4 linked regions of the Homo sapiens genome follow. The protein of the gene in region 1 interacts with the protein of each later gene in a biochemical or structural test. Each region holds a gene or a part of one and is shown in the gene's direction. Other genes may lie near its edges.

The links.
Region 2: the proteins of CHEK2 (region 1) and PPP2R5A form a complex in vitro, tested with the Homo sapiens proteins (2 studies listed by BioGRID and IntAct, with this or other methods).
Region 3: of the proteins of CHEK2 (region 1) and RCHY1, one has a biochemical effect on the other in vitro, tested with the Homo sapiens proteins (one study listed by BioGRID).
Region 4: the proteins of CHEK2 (region 1) and PPP2R5D form a complex in vitro, tested with the Homo sapiens proteins (one study listed by BioGRID).

Annotation. Positions count from the first base shown.
Region 1 is NC_000022.11:28,687,243-28,689,820, reverse strand, and holds the end of CHEK2 (serine/threonine-protein kinase Chk2), read left to right. Parts: intron 1-605; coding exon 606-686; intron 687-1,834; coding exon 1,835-1,924; 3' UTR 1,925-2,078; downstream 2,079-2,578. UniProt on the Homo sapiens protein: Serine/threonine-protein kinase which is required for checkpoint-mediated cell cycle arrest, activation of DNA repair and apoptosis in response to the presence of DNA double-strand breaks.
Region 2 is NC_000001.11:212,357,953-212,362,963, forward strand, and holds the end of PPP2R5A (serine/threonine-protein phosphatase 2A 56 kDa regulatory subunit alpha isoform), read left to right. Parts: intron 1-733; coding exon 734-835; intron 836-2,685; coding exon 2,686-2,818; 3' UTR 2,819-3,901; downstream 3,902-5,011. UniProt on the Homo sapiens protein: The B regulatory subunit might modulate substrate selectivity and catalytic activity, and might also direct the localization of the catalytic enzyme to a particular subcellular compartment.
Region 3 is NC_000004.12:75,478,121-75,484,058, reverse strand, and holds the end of RCHY1 (RING finger and CHY zinc finger domain-containing protein 1), read left to right. Parts: intron 1-1,392; coding exon 1,393-1,521; 3' UTR 1,522-5,026; downstream 5,027-5,938. UniProt on the Homo sapiens protein: E3 ubiquitin-protein ligase that mediates ubiquitination of target proteins, including p53/TP53, TP73, HDAC1 and CDKN1B. Mediates ubiquitination and degradation of p53/TP53; preferentially acts on tetrameric p53/TP53.
Region 4 is NC_000006.12:42,987,548-42,995,614, forward strand, and holds part of PPP2R5D (serine/threonine-protein phosphatase 2A 56 kDa regulatory subunit delta isoform), read left to right. Parts: intron 1-2,063; coding exon 2,064-2,141; intron 2,142-8,067. UniProt on the Homo sapiens protein: The B regulatory subunit might modulate substrate selectivity and catalytic activity, and might also direct the localization of the catalytic enzyme to a particular subcellular compartment.

The DNA of each region.
Region 1 (2,578 bases):
CTCCTGCAGCATGAAACCCCTCACCTCCCGCTCCTGCAGCAGAAACAAAATACTTGGTTCTGTTTATTGTCTCCCTTTCTCATTAGACCTGAGCTCTGGGATACTGTGGGCTTAAGTACTTCTGAAAATTTGTATGGCATCTGCTGGGTGAATTTTCCTAGGGTGCTGGGCTGGTTGTTAGGACAGTCTGGGTGACTGGCCTCATTCATGGCAGGGGCAGCAGGTGGAGAGTGGTCCGGGAAGGATTTGAGGAGCTGCACGGAGTCAGGCCCAGCCTCTGGCCTCCTGATTGCCACCTTTCTCAGGATCTTGGATACTAATTAAGAAACTCTTGACTGCTGGAGGCTGTGATTGACCCACTGAGAGCTTTTAGGCATGTGGATGTGAGTCAGCCAGGATTGATGGAGCATTGACTGCTAATTAGACTCCTCTGGGAAGGTAGAGGCGGGCAACACATAATGCCTTCGCTGTGGGAGCTTCATCAAGGGGATGATTCTTGGACGGACATTTTTCCTCCCTCTTTCCACAGGGGCATGCTAGCCCTGTCATTCTAGGAGTTTATTATCCTTCAGACACAGCTACTTATGTTTTTAATTCCCTCACAGGATGAAGACATGAAGAGAAAGTTTCAAGATCTTCTGTCTGAGGAAAATGAATCCACAGCTCTACCCCAGGTTCTAGCCCAGGTATTCGTATTCCTGATGATCACTAAATGTAGTCTGGGCTTAAGGAGCTGATAAGCAAAGATGATGAAATTCAAGATTTTCCTGAGTAGCAATTGCTTAACATTGTTTCAGTTATAATGTAGTAGAAACTCTGTTTTAACTTGATTCGCTCCAGCACCCTTAGATTTAAAAATGCAGGATATGTTTAATATCTAACACATAATAGACCGATAAGCACAGCTAGGGATTGTCATCCAAAAGGTCACCTGCAAGGCAATTTCGAAAGACTCTATTAGAGGCTCAAATATAAATTTGTTGAACAAATTAAAATTTGGGTCAGTAGTTGATTCCTTGATTACAATTTTATTCTTTAAAGTTCTTTGTGAGTATAAGTTAATTCCAGTCCTGCTTTTTTGTTGTTGTTGTTGTTGTTGAATGGTAGCTGTCCTTTTTCCCACTGTTTCCTCCCCCCAATTTTTTTTTTCTTGAGACAGAGTCTTGGTTTGTCACTCAGGCCGGAGTGCAGTGGTGCAATCTCAGCTCACTGCAACCTCTGCCTCCTGGGTTCAAGCAGTTCTCCTGCCTCAGTCTCCCGAGTATCTGGGATTACAGGTGTCCGCCACTGTGCCCAGCTAATTTTTGAATTTTTAGGTGAGATGGGGTTTTGCCATGTTGGTCAGGCTTGTCTCGAACTTTTGACCTGAAGCGACCTGCCCACCTCGGCTTTCCAAAGTGCTGGGATTACAGCTGTGAGTCACCGCACCCAGCCTTCCTCCCAATTTTATATATGGGAAAACAACTAAGGCACAAAGGTTGTCTTCCCGCAAAAGACCAAGACTTGGGGCTTCAACTGAGAGGTATTATAGTCCTTTTAAACTTGATATTTAGAAGAGGACGATCAAGAGGAAGTTGGTTATGCTACTTGCTTTCAGTATACATCGTTCAGAGGTCAGAAGCCATAAGGGAGAGAAATATCTATTAGATAAGCATGTCTGAGTTGGGGGCTGTGGTGAGGACTCAGTTGTCAATGATGACAACCAGTAATTTTTGGTTCTAGAATTTCACATCAAATGCCCCCACTTTACTGGAAGCATATTGAGGAACTTTGATAATCTTAAAGAAGCCAGTGATTTTCTTTTGAACATTTCTCCATTTTCCTTTATTTTCAGCCTTCTACTAGTCGAAAGCGGCCCCGTGAAGGGGAAGCCGAGGGTGCCGAGACCACAAAGCGCCCAGCTGTGTGTGCTGCTGTGTTGTGAACTCCGTGGTTTGAACACGAAAGAAATGTACCTTCTTTCACTCTGTCATCTTTCTTTTCTTTGAGTCTGTTTTTTTATAGTTTGTATTTTAATTATGGGAATAATTGCTTTTTCACAGTCACTGATGTACAATTAAAAACCTGATGGAACCTGGGCTTTGTGCTTCTGCTTGATAATCGGTTCTTTAGTTGAATGGCTTTATTATTTATTTATTTGAGATGGAGTCTCACTCTGTTGCCCAGCCTGAATGAAGTGCAGTGGTGCAGGCTTGGCTCACTGCAACCTCTGCTTCCCAGGTTCAAGCGATTCTTGTGCCTCAGCCTCCTGAGTAGCTGGGATTACAGGTATGCACCACCATGCCTGTTAATTTTTATATATTTTGTAGAGACAGGGTTTTGCCATGTTGGCCAGCCTGGTCTTGAACTTCTGACCTCAGGTGATCTGTCTGCCTCAGTCTCTTAAAGTGCTGGGATTACACGCATGAGCCACTGAGCCTAGCCTGAATGGCTTTTTTATATTTAAAGTTGTGTGCCTTTCATCTGGAGCTACACCTTGGCTATCACTAGGCAGGTTTCCCAGGATGTCACCCTGGTCTCAGCCTGTGAGAGCTGAATACAAATTCTAAGGGCCCCTTGGAAAGTTCCAGGGAAGGGA
Region 2 (5,011 bases), on another chromosome or scaffold:
TACCCAGCGAATTTTTATTTTTATTTTTTTTGGACAGTTGAAGTCTCACTATATTGCCCAGGCTGGACTGAAACTCCTGGGCTCAAGTGATCATCTCACCTTGGCCTCCCAAAGTGCTGAGATTATAGGCATGTACCACTGTGCCCAGCCTTCATGTCAATTTAAAATTGCAAATCTCCCTGGAGGTTGTGGTCAAACCCTCTTGGGGAGACCAACTGAACATTTGCAGAGGATACACAAACTACTCCGTTAATGCAGAGTTGTGTTGGTCTACTCTCAGTGTATAGTCTCCCCTCTATAAATGGCACTGTCCCAGGGGAAAGCCGAAGTGCTAAGGGTAATATATTCTAACTTCTTTAACATCCTTATCCGGCTTTCTACTTTTCATAAGTTTTGGTAATTGGATCTTTTTCATCTTCTTTTAATGTTGTTACTCAGGATTTCAGACATGAGACTGTAAAGCAGAAATGAAGATAACTATAGTGAACATTTTTAACTAGAGTTTAATGTAAGCATGATAAAATGGAAAAGATTTAAGTTTTCTTAGACTGTCTCTACCACCACTTGCTGTATGACCTTGAGCATATTACAAACCTCTTGAGCCTCAGTTTTATCATCTCTAAAATGGATTAAATGAAATCAGCCAAGCTTTAACCCATTTTAGAGACCATAGTGTTACATTTCCTCTCTGTTAGCAGTATCATAACTCAGGACTGGCTCATTTTCATTTCAGGACCATTGTAGCACTGGTATACAATGTGCTGAAAACCCTAATGGAAATGAATGGCAAGCTTTTCGATGACCTTACTAGCTCATACAAAGCTGAAAGACAGAGGTATTTGATATTTTGAATTACAAAATTATCTATACATTTTATGTTAGTTGAATGTGATTCAGTTCAGGAAGGTATCTTCTCTCAGTTCAGATTTTCATATTTAAGAAGTTAATTACCTTATAGTAAACATTACAATGTGAAAGTCTCTTAACATATAAGTCATTTCCAGATAAACTAGCCCCAGTATTTTTATAAATTTGTTAAAGCAGAAAAAGCAGTAGCATTTATTTTTGAGGGTAGTTACATAATTTACTTCCTCTAAATGGTTAGATTATGATTTTAATGTGGATCATAAATCCTGTTTATCTCATTCTGAGCCTTAGATTTCCTCAGTCTGTTAGCATCTGCATATGAAATATAATTTATGCTGAATTTTAAATATCAATTTGTACAATTTGATTTTTTATCCATGCATTTACGAAAATCCTTTTTGTCCACGTGGGCTTCCAGAGTGAGCTTTACTTTTCAAGTGTTCTTTGTTAGCAGTAGGTAATTCTTACGCTGTGGATTATCAGAAGGTGGTATTTTAAAGTCAGCATAGTTCTCCTTTGGGAAGAGGGAAGTCACATAATGATATGGCTTAGGGTACTATTAATATGTTGTCCTTGCAATAATATGTATTTTAGAGTATAAATGTTAGCACGTATCAGCCTTTAGGAACATGGCCTAGTGATTACCTCTTTTTGAGAATTTCATAAATTACTATAAAATAATCTTTCAAGAGTTACTTTCTTCTCATATGTTTATTTCAAACTCAAGAAGCACTTTCTTAAACTTAAGTGGTTAGTAACCAGTGTACCTGAGCCCACCCATTATTTGAGGATAACAGTTACCATTTACTTCTAATAAGCATATTACCTGTTCTGTTTAGAAAAGCTATCTATTTTGACAAGTTCCTAGTTATGGTTATCTTAAAGTAGAAAATGGATAGCCTTTCTTCAAAGCCATCCAGCCCATTAATAACTAACTCAATGCATTATTTCCTTTAAATAGCAGCATTCAGGCAGGAATAGAAATTAAGTACATGTTTTGAGCCTCAGGAAGCAATGGGAAGAAAATAAGATGACTAGGATCATAGGAAACTTGTATTTGAAAAATATGTATTTCACATGACTAAGAATATACTCATCATTTCTTACCTGCATAAATCAGCAAATCCTTTAAAAGGATTTGTCCTTTTAACTCATAACTGCAGAATTATAAGCCTATGTTTTACATGTTCATGGAGCCTTTCAGAATAGACAGGTTCAAGTTACTCAGAAATGTTTTCCTTAGAACTGAAATTAATTAGTTGAAACGACATATGAAATATTTTGACCTTCATTTTGTTCTAGAGAAAGATTACTGAAACTAAAGTTTTCATTTGACATGTAAAAGAGGAGCTAGTAAGATACAAACTGGTTAGTGGCTAGAGATGTGGCTGTTAGTGGCAAAAATGATGTGGCTTCTGTCTGGTGTGGTGAAGGAAGTGCTTCCTACTGACCTAGTGGCCAGCCCCTTCAGCCTTTGTAATACTGATTAGACTACTACAACTGCAAGATGTTTACGTGAGAAAATTGACGTGTAAGTACTTTGTTGACTATAAAGTACAGTGTCATGGTAGTGATAATGTGTAGGGGACAGAAAGCAAGTAGTAACGTCTAGCTGGTACAGGAGATGCACAGACTCAGTACATTTAGGAGAGTGACAAGAAGAAATTAGGTGCTCCAGGTAAGTGGACTCCAAAGCTTTAGCAGAGGGATTTAAGTGAAATGTGGGTAAGTAATGTGTTCTCCAGTAAGCTGTCAAACAGCACCTCTCTTTGGGTTCTGAAATAATTTCTGATTACAAAAATTTTGGTTTATCTACAGAGAGAAAAAGAAGGAATTGGAACGTGAAGAATTATGGAAAAAATTAGAGGAGCTAAAGCTAAAGAAAGCTCTAGAAAAACAGAATAGTGCTTACAACATGCACAGTATTCTCAGCAATACAAGTGCCGAATAAAAAAAAAGCCTCCCACCTCTGCCGGATAGGCAGAGTTTTGTATGCTTTTTTGAAATATGTAAAAATTACAAAACAAACCTCATCAGTATAATATAATTAAAAGGCCAATTTTTTCTGGCAACTGTAAATGGAAAAATATATGGACTAAACGTAGCCCTGTGCTGTATCATGGCCATAGTATATTGTAACCTTTGTCTAATCATTGGATTTATTGTGTCACTTCTGAAGTTTCACAGAAATGAATGAATTTTATCATCTATGATATGAGTGAGATAATTATGGGAGTGGTAAGAATTATGACTTGAATTCTTCTTTGATTGTGTTGCACATAGATATGGTAGTCTGCTCTGTATATTTTTCCCTTTTATAATGTGCTTTTCACACTGCTGCAAACCTTAGTTACATCCTAGGAAAAAATACTTCCTAAAATAAAACTAAGGTATCATCCTTACCCTTCTCTTTGTCTCACCCAGAAATATGATGGGGGGAATTACCTGCCCTAACCCCTCCCTCAATAAATACATTACTGTACTCTGGAATTTAGGCAAAACCTTAAATCTCCAGGCTTTTTAAAGCACAAAATATAAATAAAAGCTGGGAAAGTAAACCAAAATTCTTCAGATTGTTCCTCATGAATATCCCCCTTCCTCTGCAATTCTCCAGAGTGGTAACAGATGGGTAGAGGCAGCTCAGGTGAATTACCCAGCTTGCCTCTCAATTCATTCCTCCTCTTCCTCTCAAAGGCTGAAGGCAGGGCCTTTCCAGTCCTCACAACCTGTCCTTCACCTAGTCCCTCCTGACCCAGGGATGGAGGCTTTGAGTCCCACAGTGTGGTGATACAGAGCACTAGTTGTCACTGCCTGGCTTTATTTAAAGGAACTGCAGTAGGCTTCCTCTGTAGAGCTCTGAAAAGGTTGACTATATAGAGGTCTTGTATGTTTTTACTTGGTCAAGTATTTCTCACATCTTTTGTTATCAGAGTACCATTCCAATCTCTTAACTTGCAGTTGTGTGGAAAACTGTTTTGTAATGAAAGATCTTCATTGGGGGATTGAGCAGCATTTAATAAAGTCTATGTTTGTATTTTGCCTTATGTCATCTTTGCTTCTTTTAGCTCTAAGCTTAGGCATACAGGAGAAGTCTGCCCCCCTTTTTACATACATATGTGTATTTATAGAAACTTTTAAGACAAATTGTGGGACGAAGTCTAATTTAAAAATAGGAAGATTGTGTGCCAAGGTTGAGTGTTCTAGCCCTTTACCAAAATATGTTTTACAGAATATTTGCATAAAATTCTAAGTTCTAGGATATCTTTCCATCATCTTTCATATCCTTGTATGTTAAGAGGATGGGTTTAATTTACTTTGAAGCTAATTTTTCATAATCCATAATAAATAGCACTTCTAGTGAAGAGCAGGGAGCCTGTGGCACAGTTAGAAATCAGGTATTATTGGCTGGGTGCGGTGGCTCGCGCCTGTAATCCCAGCATTTTGGGAGGCCGAGGCGGGCCGATCACCTGAGGTCAGGAGTTCAAGACCAGCCTGGCCAACATGGTGAAACTCTGTCTCTACTAAAAATATAAAAACTAGCCATGCGTGCTGGTGGGCGTCTACAATCCCAGCTACTCGGGAGGCTGAGGCAAGAGAATCGCTTGAGCCCACAATGACCCAAGATGCACTCCAGCCTGGGCGACAGAACAAGATTCTGTCTCAAAAAAAGAGAAAGAAATCAGACATTATTGTAATAAAGTGTTATCTGCTACTGATGTTTACTTCTGCTTTAATATTAAAAACTCTAGCACAGGGGATGCACACTACTCCCAGGTCATCATGAAAGCAGTGTACCAAAAGGAAGAGCACTAAAATTCTTTTACAACAATAGCTCATGCTTTGTTTTTCTCAAGTAGTAGGTATTGCAGAGTCATCTTGTCATGGCCATCAGGTTAAGGTGTTCCTTCTAGATTCTCTACACTCACCCAGGGTCAGCTAGTATTGCTGACAGCTGGGGGACAGCGCAGTTAAAAATGATGATCCTACACAAAACAGAAGGAAAAGGCAAGCGCCTGCCTTTCCAGAAAGTGAAGGTTATGTCTAAATGTCTATTCTGTAGAAGGTTTAGGTATATTTCTTTTACTGAAGAGCAACCAGAGTAGATTTTGACAGGTTACAGCTAATAAAGGTTTTTCTCTCTGAA
Region 3 (5,938 bases), on another chromosome or scaffold:
GAATAGATTCAGAGGGTCTTGACTTTCTTTATTTGGTTGCAATTAGCTTGCAACCTAAAGCATAAAAGGTTGTTTCTGTGCCTTTTGGCTTATGGAGAGTGATCATCTTTTTTCGTTTAATTAAGATGTGTTGCTGTCTCTTCTCAGCCATACATGGTATTGAGTTTTAGATTAGAATGGGAAAGCCTAGTATTCTGGCTAGATAATTTTTGGTTATATTACACATTTTCTGAACATCTTCAGATACTTCAGCATACGAGGATAAAAACCACGTAGCAAAGCCAAATGAAAATTATTTTTTGTTTTATTTACACTGGAGTGTTTCATAATTCATGTGGATAATTGTTAGGGCAATGAAAAATCACTTTTGGAATACTAACCGATAATCATGTGATTGACTAGAGGCCGAAGTGTGCTATGTTCCATGTAGATAATTTTTGGAAATAATGGCTTCATTAAGATACAATTCACATATTATATAGTTCATTCATTTAAATTGTACAATTTGGTGCTTTTTAAAATATTCATGTAGTTATGCAAACATCACCACAATTTTAGAACATTTTTATCATCCCAAAAAGGAAACACTCATACCCATTAGCAGTCATTCCCTAACGCCCCAGGCCTAGGCAACCACTAATCCACTTTCTCCATTTAGATCATATTTTTTAAATAATTATTTTCCAAATTATAATTTAGAGCAAATTTGGAAATTTTCTGCTTATTATAGTGTGACTATTCAAAAACTAGTGCTTTTCTTGCATAGTAATGTATTGATTTTCAGGTTAACACCTTTGTTATTTTTCAGGTTCTTACTTAGCACTAGAAGAAATTAATTCTTAAACGGCATCTTATTGTTATTGTAGGGATGAGCGAAGAGCCTCTCTGTTTACTCAATTTTAGGAACACTCTTTTTGGAATTTAATTCATTCCTAAGGCAGAGAAGACAGGGAACAGTATACTAAACCTAAAAAATAAGCAAAAATATTATTTGTGTAAAAATTTTGGTTTTATTAATTGAGATACATTTCTGACTGAAAAATAATGAAATCATGTTGTTATTTTGAATTATAAGTATCAGGTATTCATCTGATTATGCCTAGGTTAATTTTCTTGCTTGTACTATTTATACTATTTAATATTTGGAAACTATTTTAAAATAAGCTTTTTTTTTGCTCAAATCTGCCTTTTCATTTTCTGAATTCAGAGCCACCTTAATAGCTTTTTAGAGTTTTCAGTGAAAAAATAAGAAGAAATTTCTACTTTTGGAAATTTTTAGACTTATGTATGTATTTTCACATCTTTAATATGATTTTCAAGGGATTATGAGTAGACAATGCTACTTGTATTTATAAGGTTTAAAATACTTAATTTGAATTAATCTCTTTTCAGATTCTCTGCAATGACTGTAATGGACGATCCACTGTTCAGTTTCATATATTAGGCATGAAATGTAAGATTTGTGAATCCTATAATACTGCTCAAGCTGGAGGACGTAGAATTTCACTGGATCAGCAATGACGAGCCTACACAGTACTGGAGAACTTGGCATTTTCTGATATAGAAAAAGGCTTTCCTTGGTATCGTGTTATCATGTGTCGTCATCTATGCATTAGAGTTGATGTGTTTTGTACTAGTGTCACAGCATAAAATCATATTACAAGTACGTAAGGATTCAGGGTCTCTTGATAGACTTATCATAGCTCTATATTGAATGAAAGCCACTGTGCTTGTGTTTTGATTGGAAATTCCTTTAGTGTCAGTTTTTTGGAAGCCAATGATGTTTGCCACTGATACATTCATAGAAGTGTATTATATTTTCATGAAGCTTTGCTTTAAGTGACACTACGCGTGCAGTTCATTTCTAGTTCTTGATAGAACTGCACTTAATTTTCAGTAGTAGTCTTGACTTTTTAAGGGCTGTGTTATATTAAGTTCTCCCTTACTGTTAAAACCTAATTAAATATGCTTTAGAATTTTCTAAGACAGTCCTCTGGATCCTCTAAATGTGAATTTTGATGTAATAACTGCTAATAAAATTATATTGAAACTGTTTTATAGAAAGTTTTTTCCAAAGTTTTCTATGTTTGGCTCAATTAGGGCAGTATCATCAGTTCTATAATGTAAAAGAAATTTTCTTTCTTTTGAGGTATTCCATAAAAGTAGTTGGGAAAATTATTATGTAAAATAATAAGACTCTTCCAAAGCCTTAATAAAAACATCAACATTGAAAACAGTTTTTTTTAGGTTGCCCAAAATTATTTCTTCAAAGAGTCATTCATTCCTTCATTTAGCAAGTATTTATTGAGCAACTGCTATGTGGCAGATATGTTTCTAGATGCTGTAGAGACAACAGTGAACAATAAAGATAAAAGTCCTTGTCCTCACAGCAGTACATTCTATTGTTCATCATATTTGATCAATGTACTCATTTTTCTTTATGCAAGGAGTGGATGTCTTATTGTAAATGAATAGAATATTTCTTCCCTAAGCGTGTGAAAATAGGGGATGGATGAGTGGGAAGGGCATGGGATATTCCTGGCAAGATCTCTGATTTCATAATACTTTTTTGGGCTCATGTAGTGGAATTAAATATACCTCTTACTTCAGGAACAAAGTTAACAAATATGTTTGATGATCCAGCCGACTTTGACACTGTTATCTCCGTAATAGCTTTACCATTAGGCTAGGATGTAAAATGTACATTTATCAGTTGATAAGTACCTATTGAGCACCAGTTGTATTTCCAACTTTGAGCTATTTGAATCTTCTTTGAATAAGGAAGTTAGCCTTTTAACTAGAAAGCCTAAGAGTTCTGGCACATTTATTTCTTCTTTTGTTGAAATTTATTCACCTAGATAAAGGCAGCAGTTTGGGACTCAGATCTTTATTTTATCCCACCTTCTTGTCTTCTGTATTCCACTCTTCTTATGTTCTTTCCCTTCATCTGTTTCCTTGGCCTGGCCAGAGCAGCAGTGCTGATCTTCATTTGGGAAAGGATGTTCCTGGGTATTACCAATTAGTATACAGATAAGTAAAGACTAGTTTTCCAGATCTAATACTTTTTTTTGAAGTGGTTTTGCTCTGTCATTTAGGCTAGAGTGTAGTGAAGTGATCGTAGCTCACTGCAGCCTTGACTTCCTGGGCTGAACTGATCCTTCCACCTCAGCCTCCTGAGTAGCTGGGACTACAGGTGTGTGCCACCATGCCCAGCTAATTTTTAATTGTTTTGTAGAAACAAAGTCCAGGCTGGTCTTGAACTCCTGGGCTCAAGCATTTCTCCTACCTCGGCCTTCCAAGGGCTAGGATTACAGGCATGAGCCACTGTGCTTGGTCCAGATGTATTACTTTTTATGTTTGGTATTATTCTGCCAAACCAATCATGTTATTGTTTTTAATCATTGAATCATTGGATCTTTAAATAGGAGTGAGTATATAATAATAAGGCTCTTCTGTTTTCAACATCTGTGCTGGGTCATGCATTAGCATTAATTACTACAATGATTCTGTGGGGTAAGTGTTGTCCTCATAGACAAGAAAGCTGAGGTTTAGAGGTTAAAATGACACATTGGGGGTAAATAACAGACACTATATGTTGGAGTTGGGAATCAGATCCAAGTTTGACTCCAAACCCACTTTTACCACATTGCTTTTGATCTAAACTTCTATTTTGCTAAAATACCCCTCACAGCTAGTCATCCATATCATTGAAGCGCTCATGATTTGATAGATTAACCTTTCATTTTTTTAGGTGACTCTAGTTAGAAAGTCTTATTTCACAATCTGATTGTTTCTTTAACTTAGGATCCAAACATGTCCAAAATAATGCAGAGTACATATGCAATCACTCGTTTATGCTGTCTAGTCATGCACTTAAAGCAATTTTCAAATGTACTCAAAGTCTCTAGGCTTCGGTACCCAGGGTTGCTTCAAGTATTTGTTCATGACACGTCAACTCGATGATTAAAATCCTTCAACACTTCTCATTCACAATAAGAATAAAATCTACATCCCTTACCATTCAGTATGCAAAACTTAAAATACATAACTTTACCCTTAAATATTTTTTCTTTCTCTGACTTCATAAGTATAGGTTATACCTCTATAAGAAAGAAGGTAAAAAACTCTCAACAATCCCTTCTTTCAGAGAGAACTACTGTTAACATTTTAACAGACAACTTCATTCTTTTCCTATTCTTTTTTATAATGCTTACAGGAATGTTAAATACTTAGACAGATCTTAAGTACACTAGAATTATCTGTCCCTGAAATAAGTTAGGTTGCCCTGCCGCAGAATTTGTATCTATAGTTTATTTGGATTATTTTTGAAAAAAGTAAAATAACAATACCCTTACGAATTTTTTGGTGCATAGCATCTCAGCTTCTTTTATCATTAAAGATGTATGTATAAAAAAAAAATGAGTGTATATCAAGTTGTTCATTTCTTAGTTTCTGGGGTCTTCTTAACCAGTACATAGAACTCTTTATGAATTAACTTTAGCTTATGTTGGAAGTAGTAGTTTGTTTATAGTGTCATGGATTTTAAAATCAAACTCAGTTTTTATTTCTTCACTAAAACCTATTTTCATATGATATACATGTTAAATTTCCCTTTTATTTTGGTCATGCATCAAAATAAATTTACTAAGTACTAAAGAGCCAACATTATTTTATAAGTGCCTGGCAATAGGTATTCACTAGTTGAATAGTTTAATTTGAAATGAATTAATTTTAAATGGGAGTTGTTCAAAACTATGCCACTTTTTCTTTTGTCCTTTGTGTTATTAAAATTTAATTGATAATTGTGTATATTATATATATGGAGTACAATGTGATGTTTTGATATATGTTTACAGTGTAGAATGATTAAATCAATGTAATAAATTTATTGCCTCATACCATTTTTTGTGGTAAAAAAACCACTTAAAATCTACTCTTAATATTTTTGAAATGTACAATGCATTATTTATTATACTCACCATTCTGTGTAATAGATCAGTAAAGTTTATTCCTCTTGTCTAACTGATATTTTGTACCCTTTGATCAGCATCTCCCCTTTTCCCATCCACTTCTCTCTCCCAGCCTCTGGTAACCACCATTCTACTTCTATGAATTCACCTTTTTTTTAGATTGCACAGATAGCTGAGATCACATAGTATTTACCTTTTTGTGCCTGGGTTATTTCATTTAGTATAATGTCTTCCAGGTTCCTGTCACAAGTGACAGGATTTCTTTCTTTTATAGGGCTGAATAGTATTCCATTGAGTATATATGCCACATTTTGTTTTCATTCATATGATGATGGACATTAAGATTGCTTCCATATCTTAGCTGTTGTGAATAATGCTGCAGTGAACGTGGTGGTACAGATACCTCTTTGACACACTGACTTCAGTTCCTTTAGCTATATGTCCAGAAGTGGGATTGCTGGATCATATGGTAATTCTATTTTTAGTTTTCTGTCTCCATGCTGATTTTAATATTGGCTGTTTTAATTTACATTCCCAACGTCAGTGCACAAGTGTTCCCTTTTTTCTACACCCTGTCAACACTTTTATCATTTTGATAATAGTAATTCTAACAGGTGTAAGGTGATACCTTGTGTTAATTTGCATTTTTCTGATTAGTGATGATGAGCATCTTTTCATATATTTGTTGGCCATTTGTGTCTTTTTTAGGAATATCTGTTTACATCCTTTGCCCATGTTTTAATTGAGTTCATTTTCTTATTAGTGGCTTCAGTACCTTATGTATTTTGGATATTAGCCCCTTATCAGATGTATGATTTATAAATATTTTCTTCGAATTCATGGGTTGTCTCTTCATTCTATCATTCACTTCACTATGCAGAAGCTTTTTAGTTTGATGCAGCGCCATGTATTTTTTGTTGTCTGTGTTCTTGGGGTTATATCCAAGAAATCTTTGCCCATACCAGTGT
Region 4 (8,067 bases), on another chromosome or scaffold:
TTGCCTGTGATTACACAGCCAGTAAGAGTTGGGCCCAAAACACAGGGCTGAGTCCAAACATGTTCTTTTAACCTCTGTGCTACACAGCATTTGACTACTGAGCTGGGCTGAAATGTGTGTGCTTCACCTGTTCTGCAGGAGCCAGGGAGCAAGGGTGGTAGGCCTGGTTCCTCCATGCCCACTCACACCCACACACTAAGGCAGCTGGATCTCTCTTAGGCTCATTCTTTGAAAGATACGTCTGAGGCATCATGCTGAGTGCTGTAGGGTGGGTGGAGGGGTACAAAAAAGAATAAGCAGCTTATGGTCTAATAGATTGGAGATGTATGAAGATGGGTCAGCTTTGTTCAAGGGGTTCATGTCTGGGGTGTGTGCAGACACCTCAATGTTGTGTCCTGCCTGCACCCTGCCCCCGGCCTATTTCTCTCCACCCCATGCTCTCAGCCACTGATAAGGGTCAGTGTGGCCAGCTGGGTTAGTATACAGCAGGAGCGTGCTCAGGCCAAAGAAGGAACTCCTTCCCCCTACTGCATGGAGCTGCTCTACACCACACCTTTCTTCCTCCCCACCTCCAAGAAGCCTTCCCCCTACTCCAGCCCACACAGAGCTCTCTTCTCCCTGAAATCCTTTTGCCCCCATAGTCACAATAACTCGATTTAACACTTCTCACTGAAGGGGCTTGGCTGCTATTGAATTGCACAATCTCAGAGCTGGAAGTGATTTCCAAGATCCTCCAGTCCTCATTAAAGGCTTGAATTTCTTTTGCAACATGCCTTACAGGAGGTCACCAAGCCCCTGCTTGAATGTTCTCAGGGGTTGGGGAGCTTTCGGCTTCACTAGGTGGCCAGTTTTAGTGCAATTGCTCCATGATAAAATTCTTCCTTGTTTGGAGCTTCAGGTGGCTTGCAACTTCAGCCCATTGCTCTCGTGCCTCTGGTCCATATGGACAAGTTGCATCCAAGGCATCCAAGTTGCATCTTCATTTGTTTAAGATCCATCTTGCTTCTCCATCCCTCATGACTCCTCCCTTCCATTGTTAACTATCCCAGTTCCTGCAGCTGTTGGTCTTGGGACATGCCTTTGAATCCACTCCCAGTATGGGTTGCATTTCCCTCTAAGAAACACTAGGATTTGTCATGGCCCCTCCCAAGCCTGATGCTCATGACTGAACCAGATCCTCCAGGATAGCCCTGTCAGTGCCAAGCAGTCTGCACAGGTCTTTTAACAAGATGGAAGGTCACATGAGCTGCACATGGATGATTTGTGTTGAGCTTGCAGTCAGACCTAAATCCCCAAGTCTTTTTCACATTTTCCCTATCCTGTCCCTGTGCAGTTGCTTTTTTTGGCTCGAAGCATAGGAAGAGATGCTGGGCAGGCCAGGGCTCTGAGCCAGCTGCCAGGTTCCCAAAGGAGACTTCAGACTAGTGCTCACTCTTTGTAACAGTTCAGGGTTTTACCCCCATCCCTGTCTTAGTGCTTGTCAACTGAGGTGCTCTTGGCATTTTGAGTGGGACAGTTCTGTACCTGTTAGCATTCCTGGGCCTTACTGATTAAATGCTGAGTAGCACCCTCTTGTCTGTGCGCTATTTGTGACATCCAAAAATTGCCTCCCAGTCTTTCCAGGTGGCTGTGAGGGGAGAGTGGTGACTCCCTGCACTCCAGCATGAAAGCCTCCGGCACACCTTTGACCACTTTAGCCAGAAACCAGTGAGCAGCTGTTCCCTGATGCTTTTTCTTTAAGCCTCCTCACCCTGGTTCTGACCTGAGCAAAGGCCCTCCCAGGCCCAACCTCTGCACCAGCCTGATGAGGTGAAAGATGGAGCATTCTCACGCTGAATTAGTGTGTGTTTGGGGTGACTTCCTAACCAGATTCTAAACTCTTTGGAGGGGCTGAATCTCCTTCTGCGTAGATCCCTCCACCCACCCCAGCTCCGCACAAGGTAGATTCTAATTGATTGATTCAACTGGACAGAGGATATTTGCAACAAAGATCTAAGGGAGCCAGATAAGACCTCTCCCTTCTCCTGGCATCTGCTAACTTTACTTTCATCTTTTCCTTTCAGGAGCCCCCCAAGGTTGCCAAATGCACAGCCAAGCCTAGCAGCTCGGGCAAGGATGGTGGAGGCGAGAACACTGAGGAGGTAATGAATGTAGGCGTAGCCTTAGATGTGGTGCAGGTGCCACCCGCAACTCCATGATGGCTAGTTGGGTAGGGGATCCCAGGGGGTGAGGCAGAAGGGAAGGCTTCCATATCCTGGGAGGGACCTGGACAGCCCATCCAGACTGCCCTCAGGCAGGATTTACCTTTGGTTGGTATAGACCAAATACATTCTCTAGTTCTTCAGACTCCCCAGAGATTCCTATGAAAGTTGTTTCTCTGCTTACCAACTTGGAATGTTGAGAATTCCTTTTTCTTAGGGCAAAAAGCGGGAGGTTCTGGGATCCTGGGCAAAAGGGGAAAAGTCCACAGACACTTGATGGGGTAACAAGTGACTTCAGCATGGCTCGGGTGGGGCAGGGGATTGGGAGGGGCTGGTGTCCCTGAGTTGGGCCCAGCTGGGCCCACTGCCCTTGGTCCTGATTGAATGGCAGCATGACTAAAAGACAGTCCTGAGCAGAGTTCAGCGCAGCTTAGCAATCTCGGGTTATAAAGCAATAAACAGCAAGCCGAGAGAACACCAGAAGAGGGAGAGACTTAAGGAAGTACACAGTATGTCCATGAAAGTTTGGGAGTGTGCACAGTGGGATGCTCTGGATGGTGAAAGATCCTGTGAACATACACAGCGAGCATCCACCACATCCTACCTGGAAACTGGTGTTTGGTGCTTTCTCTGCTTTCTCCCTCTGCTCTAAACTGTTCAGAGGGATGAAAGAGAACTGGAAACACAGCTCTCTAGTTATGGACAGGTCTTATGGTTTTTTGGGAGAAGAGATTGATGAGCAAATGTTTGGGGTTAACTATGCGTTTAGATGTTTCTCAGTACTTCTGGTGATAGGTCACCTCTAAAGAGATACAAGCACTTTTCACACCTCATTTTAGGCCTCATTTAAGTAATGAGAAGCTGAGTAGGTTTTCCCCATTTTATAGGCATGGAAGTTGAGGACCACAGAAGAGGAATTATTCTTTCCTCTGCACTTATGCAGTATTCTACTTTTTTTTTTTTTTTTTTTTTTTTTTTGAGATGGAGTCTCTCTCTTGTTGCCCAGGCTGGAGTGCAATGGTACGATCTCGGCTCACTGCAACCTCCACCTCCCGGGTTCAAGCAATTCTCCTGCCTCAGCCTCCTGAGTAGCTGGGATTACAGGCGCATGCCACCATGCTTGGCTAATTTTTTTGTATTTTTAGTAGAGACGGTGTTTCACCATGTTGGCCAGGCTGGACTTGAACTCCTGACCTCAGGTGATCCACCCGCCTCAGCCTCCCAAAGTGCTGGGATTACAGGCGTGAGCCACTGCACCCGGCCCTTATGCGGTATTCTAAATATCTCCTTAATAATCCTTATCACTCAGCTCTGTGACGATTTGTCCCCATCTGTGTCTCTCCTCTCAGACTGTGAACTCCAAGGGAAGGAGCTATGTTATTCTGCATTGCTTCTTTCCTACCTCTGTGTACTTGTGCAGTTGGTTCATAGTAAATGCTTCTGGGAAGACACACTATGGGCTCAGTCTCCCTTTCAGGAATGATTATAATTGTGGGACCCACAGGGAAGGTGGTTGGAAGCTGGTAACTTGACATTTAGAGCAGCAAGAAACAGGATTTTCTAAGTCCTGAAAATCCTGGGAGAGGAAGGAAAATTTAATGGGGAGTTCCCACCTTTTGCCTAACTCCTACTTCTTTAGTTCTTAGATGGGATGTCGTTTCCTTAAAGCAGCCTTCTTTGACCACCCACCCCTATCCCCAGGACCTCGCGAGGGCTTCTGTTAGTTGCTGTTTTGGCACTCAGTACCTGGTAGCGCTGGTAGCACCTAACCACAACTGTCATGAAATAATTCCTTGTGAATTCATTGTTTTATCGGCTGTCTCTTGTGTTAGCACGAGAGCTCCATGAGGCTCTCATTCACTCCTGAAGGGCCTGACACAGCAGAAGCACCCAGCATTTGAATGTATTAGTGAGTGAATGAGTGAACGAGTGAATGAACAAATGCACCAATTTCACATTAGAGCTGAAAAGGACCTTAGGGTCTAACGTTATCAGTTCATAGATGGGAAAATGAAGCCTGAACAGGTTAAGGAGTATGCTGAGACCAACTGCTATGATTTATCCACTGCCTTTCAAACAAATATGCCTAAGACAATGGGTCTATTACAAGCAATCTGGGAAAGGAGGGTGTTGAGTTCACCTTGGGCTGTTTGGTGAAACGCTGCTCAGGGTTCACAGGTATGAGATGGCAGCAGGAATTATCCATGATTTTGTAGAAATGTACCCACGTCTGGTATGGCAGGGGTATGGGGAAAAGTTGGAGCTAGGATGTGAGGCTGTGGTCTTCAAAAGCTGTTTGGCACAGTCCTTCCCTTGCCCTTTTTCTTTTGAGATGGAATCTTGCTCTGTCGCCCAGGCTGGAGTGCAGTGGCGCGATCTTGGCTCACTGCAAGTTCCATCTCCTGGATTCACGCCATTCTCCTGCCTCAGCCTCCCGAGTAGCTGGGACTACAGGCTCCCGCCACCACGCCTGGCTAATTTTTTGTATTTTTAGTAGAGATGGGGTTTCACCATGTTAGCCAGGATGGTCTCGATCTCCTGACCTCGTGATCCACCCGCCTCGGCCTCCCAAAGTGCTGGGATTACAGATGTGAGCCACCGCGCCCGGCCCCCTTGCCCTTTTCTTGTCCGGAATTTTGGGCTCTTCTAGCCAGCTTTGCTCTGTCAGGCATTTGCCAGAGCCTTTCTAATTGATCTAATAGTTATAGCAGCTGACATTTATTTTATAGAGCAGTTACTTTGTGTTAGTTTCCTAGGGCAGCCATAATAAACTACTACAAATAAGCCCGGCATGCTGGCTCACACCTGTAATCCTAATGCTTTGGGAAGCTGAGGTGGGAGAATTGCTTGAGGGCAGGAGTTTGACACCAGCCTGGGCAACATACAGAGACCCTGTCTCTACAAAAAAATAAAAAATAAAAAATTAGCTGGATGTGGGGGCATGTGCCCCTGTACTTCCAGCCACACGGGAGGCTGAGGCGGAGGATCGCTTGAGTCCAGGAGTTCAAGGCTGCAGTGGGCCATGATCGTACCACTGCACTCCAGCCTGGGTGACAGAACGAGACCTTGTCTCAAGAAAACAAAACAAAACAAATTATTACAAATTGGGTGGCTTAAAACAATAGAAATAGGCTGGGTGCGGTGGCTCACACCTGTAATCCCAGCACTTTGGGAGGCTGAGGCAGGTGGATCACCTGAGGTCAGGAGTTTGAGAGCAGCGTGGCCAACATGGTAAAACACTGTCTCTACTAAAAATACAAAAATTGGGCTGGGCATGGTGGCTCACACCTGTAATCCCAGCACTTTGGGAGGCCGAGGCGGGTGGATCACCTGAGGTCAGGAGTTCAAGACCAGCCTGACCAACATAGTGAAACCCTGTCTCTACTAAAAATACAAAAATTAGCCAGGCGTGGTGGCACATGCCTGTAATCCCAGCTACTAGGGAGGCTGAGGCAGGAGAATCGCTTGAACCCAAGAGCCGGAGGATGCAGTGAGCCGATATTGCACCATTGCAACCCAGACTAGGCAACAAGAGCGAAACTCCGTCTCAAAAAAAAAAAAAAATACAAAAATTAGCCGGGCGTAGTGGTGGCGCACCTGTAATCCCAGCTACTGGGGAGGCTGAGGCTGGAGAATTGCTTGAACCCAGGAGGCGGAGGTTGCAGTGAGAGGAGATCGTGCCATTGCACTCCAGCCTCGGTGACAAGAGGGAAACTCTGTCTCAAAAAACAAAAAACAAACAAAAAAAGAAATACATTCTCTCTCAGCTCTGGAGGCCAAAAGTTGTAAAATTAGTGTCGGCAGGGCCATGTCCTTCTGAGGTTCTAAGGAAGAATCTGTTCCACATCTCTCTCCTAGATTCTGGTGGCTTTTGACAATCTTTGGCATTCCTTGTAGATGCATCACTTTAATCTCTGCCTCTGTCTTCACACAGCATTCTCCTCCATGTGTCTCTGTCTCTGTCCAAATTTTCCTCTTCTAAGGACACCAGTCATATTGGACTTAGGTTTCACCCCAATCCAGTATGATCTCATTTTAACTTGATTACATCTGCAAAGACCCTGTTTCCAAGTAAGGTCACATTCACAGATTCTAGGTGGACATGAATTTGGTGAGGGGAGGGGGTAGGGGACTGGATACTGTGCAACACTATGTACCAGGCACTGTGCTAAGTACTTTGCATACATTGTCTCATTTAACCTTCACAATACTCCCCTGAGATTCCTTTATTATTATTATTCCCATTTCACAGATGAAACTGAGGCTTAGAAATGTTAACTGGGCACAGTGGCTCACGCCTGTAATCCCAGCACTTTGGGAGGCCGAGGAGGGCAGACCACCTGAGGTCAGGAGTTCGAGACTAGCCTGGCCAACATGGTGAAACGCTGTCTCTACTAAAAATACAAAAATTAGCCTGGCATGGTCCAGCTACTTGGGAGACTGAGGCAGGAGAATTGCTTGAACCTGGGAGGTGGAGGTTGCAGTGAGCTGAGATTGTGCCACTGCACTCCAGCTTGGGGGAGAGAGCAAGACTCTTGTCTCAAAAGGAAATGTTAAGTAGCTTTTATTCAGCCAGTAAGGCAGTAAGGCAGAGCTGGAATTCAACCCAGGTCTGTGTGACTCTGGAGTCTCTTGTGGTCTTGAATGAAGTGATACTGCTGGCTCTAAGATTCTAGAAGTGAATCCTAGAATGGAAAGGAGCCTTGGGAGATCAGGTGAGACCCCACTGACCTGCCTCTGCAGGTAAGGGTCTTTCTTGATCTGTCCTTGGAAAAAAAAATTCAATGTCCTCACGCCTGTAATCCCAGCATTTTGGGAGGCCGAGGCGGGCGGATCACCTGAGATTGGGAGTTAGAGACCAGCCTGGCCGACATGGTGAAACCCCATCTCTACTAATAATACAAAAATTAGCTGGGCATGGTGGGGCATGCCTGTAATCCCAGCCTGTTATCCCAGCTACTCGGGAGGCTGAGGCATGAGAATCGTTTGAACCTGGGAGACAGAGGTTGCAGTGAGCCAAGATCACGCCATTGCACTCCAGCCTGGGCAACAAGAGCAAAACTCCATCTCAAAAAAAAAAAAAAAAATTAATGTCATAGACTCCTCTACGTGCTGAGCCCTGTCCTGAGTCTGGGAGTAGGGACAGAGGGAGGAATAAATTTTCCCACACTTCAGCTTGTCCTCTCTGAGGCCAGAGTTGTTACTCTAAAAACCTTCTTGGTCTTATCAGTCCTCTACTTAAAAACCATTTTTGGCATCTCACTGCTTACAAGTTAAAATCCAAACTCACTAGCATGGCACCCTCAACCCCTCTGAGCTGGCCCCACTCTTCTTCTAGCACCAGTCCTGCCTTTGTGTCCCACCGAACTTTTTCTTTCTTTTTTTTTTTTTTTTTTTTTGGAGATAGGGTCTCACTGTGTTCCCCAGGCTGGAGTACAGTGGTACAATCATGGCTCACTGCAGCCTCAACCTCCTGGGGCTCAAGGGATCTTTTCCCCTCAGCCCCCTGAGTAGCTGGGGCTGCAGGCACGAGCCACTGTGCTCAGCTAAGTTTTGTATTTTTTGTAGAGATAGGTTTCTTATTATGTTGCTAAGGCTGGTCTCGAACTCTTGGACCGAAGCAATCCTCCTGCCTTGGCCTCTGAAAGTGCTGGGATTACAGGTGTGAGCCACTGTGCCCTGCCCAACTTCCTATCTTCTGATATGACAACCCCTTTATGACTCAGGGTGCTCACAGATGCAGTTCCACTGGCCCGGACTGCTTTATTTCTCCTGTGTCTTTTTTTGCCTATTAAACTCATGTTTATTCTTTTTTTTTTTTTGAGACGGAGTCTCGCTCTGTCGCCCAGGCTGGAGTGCAGTGGTG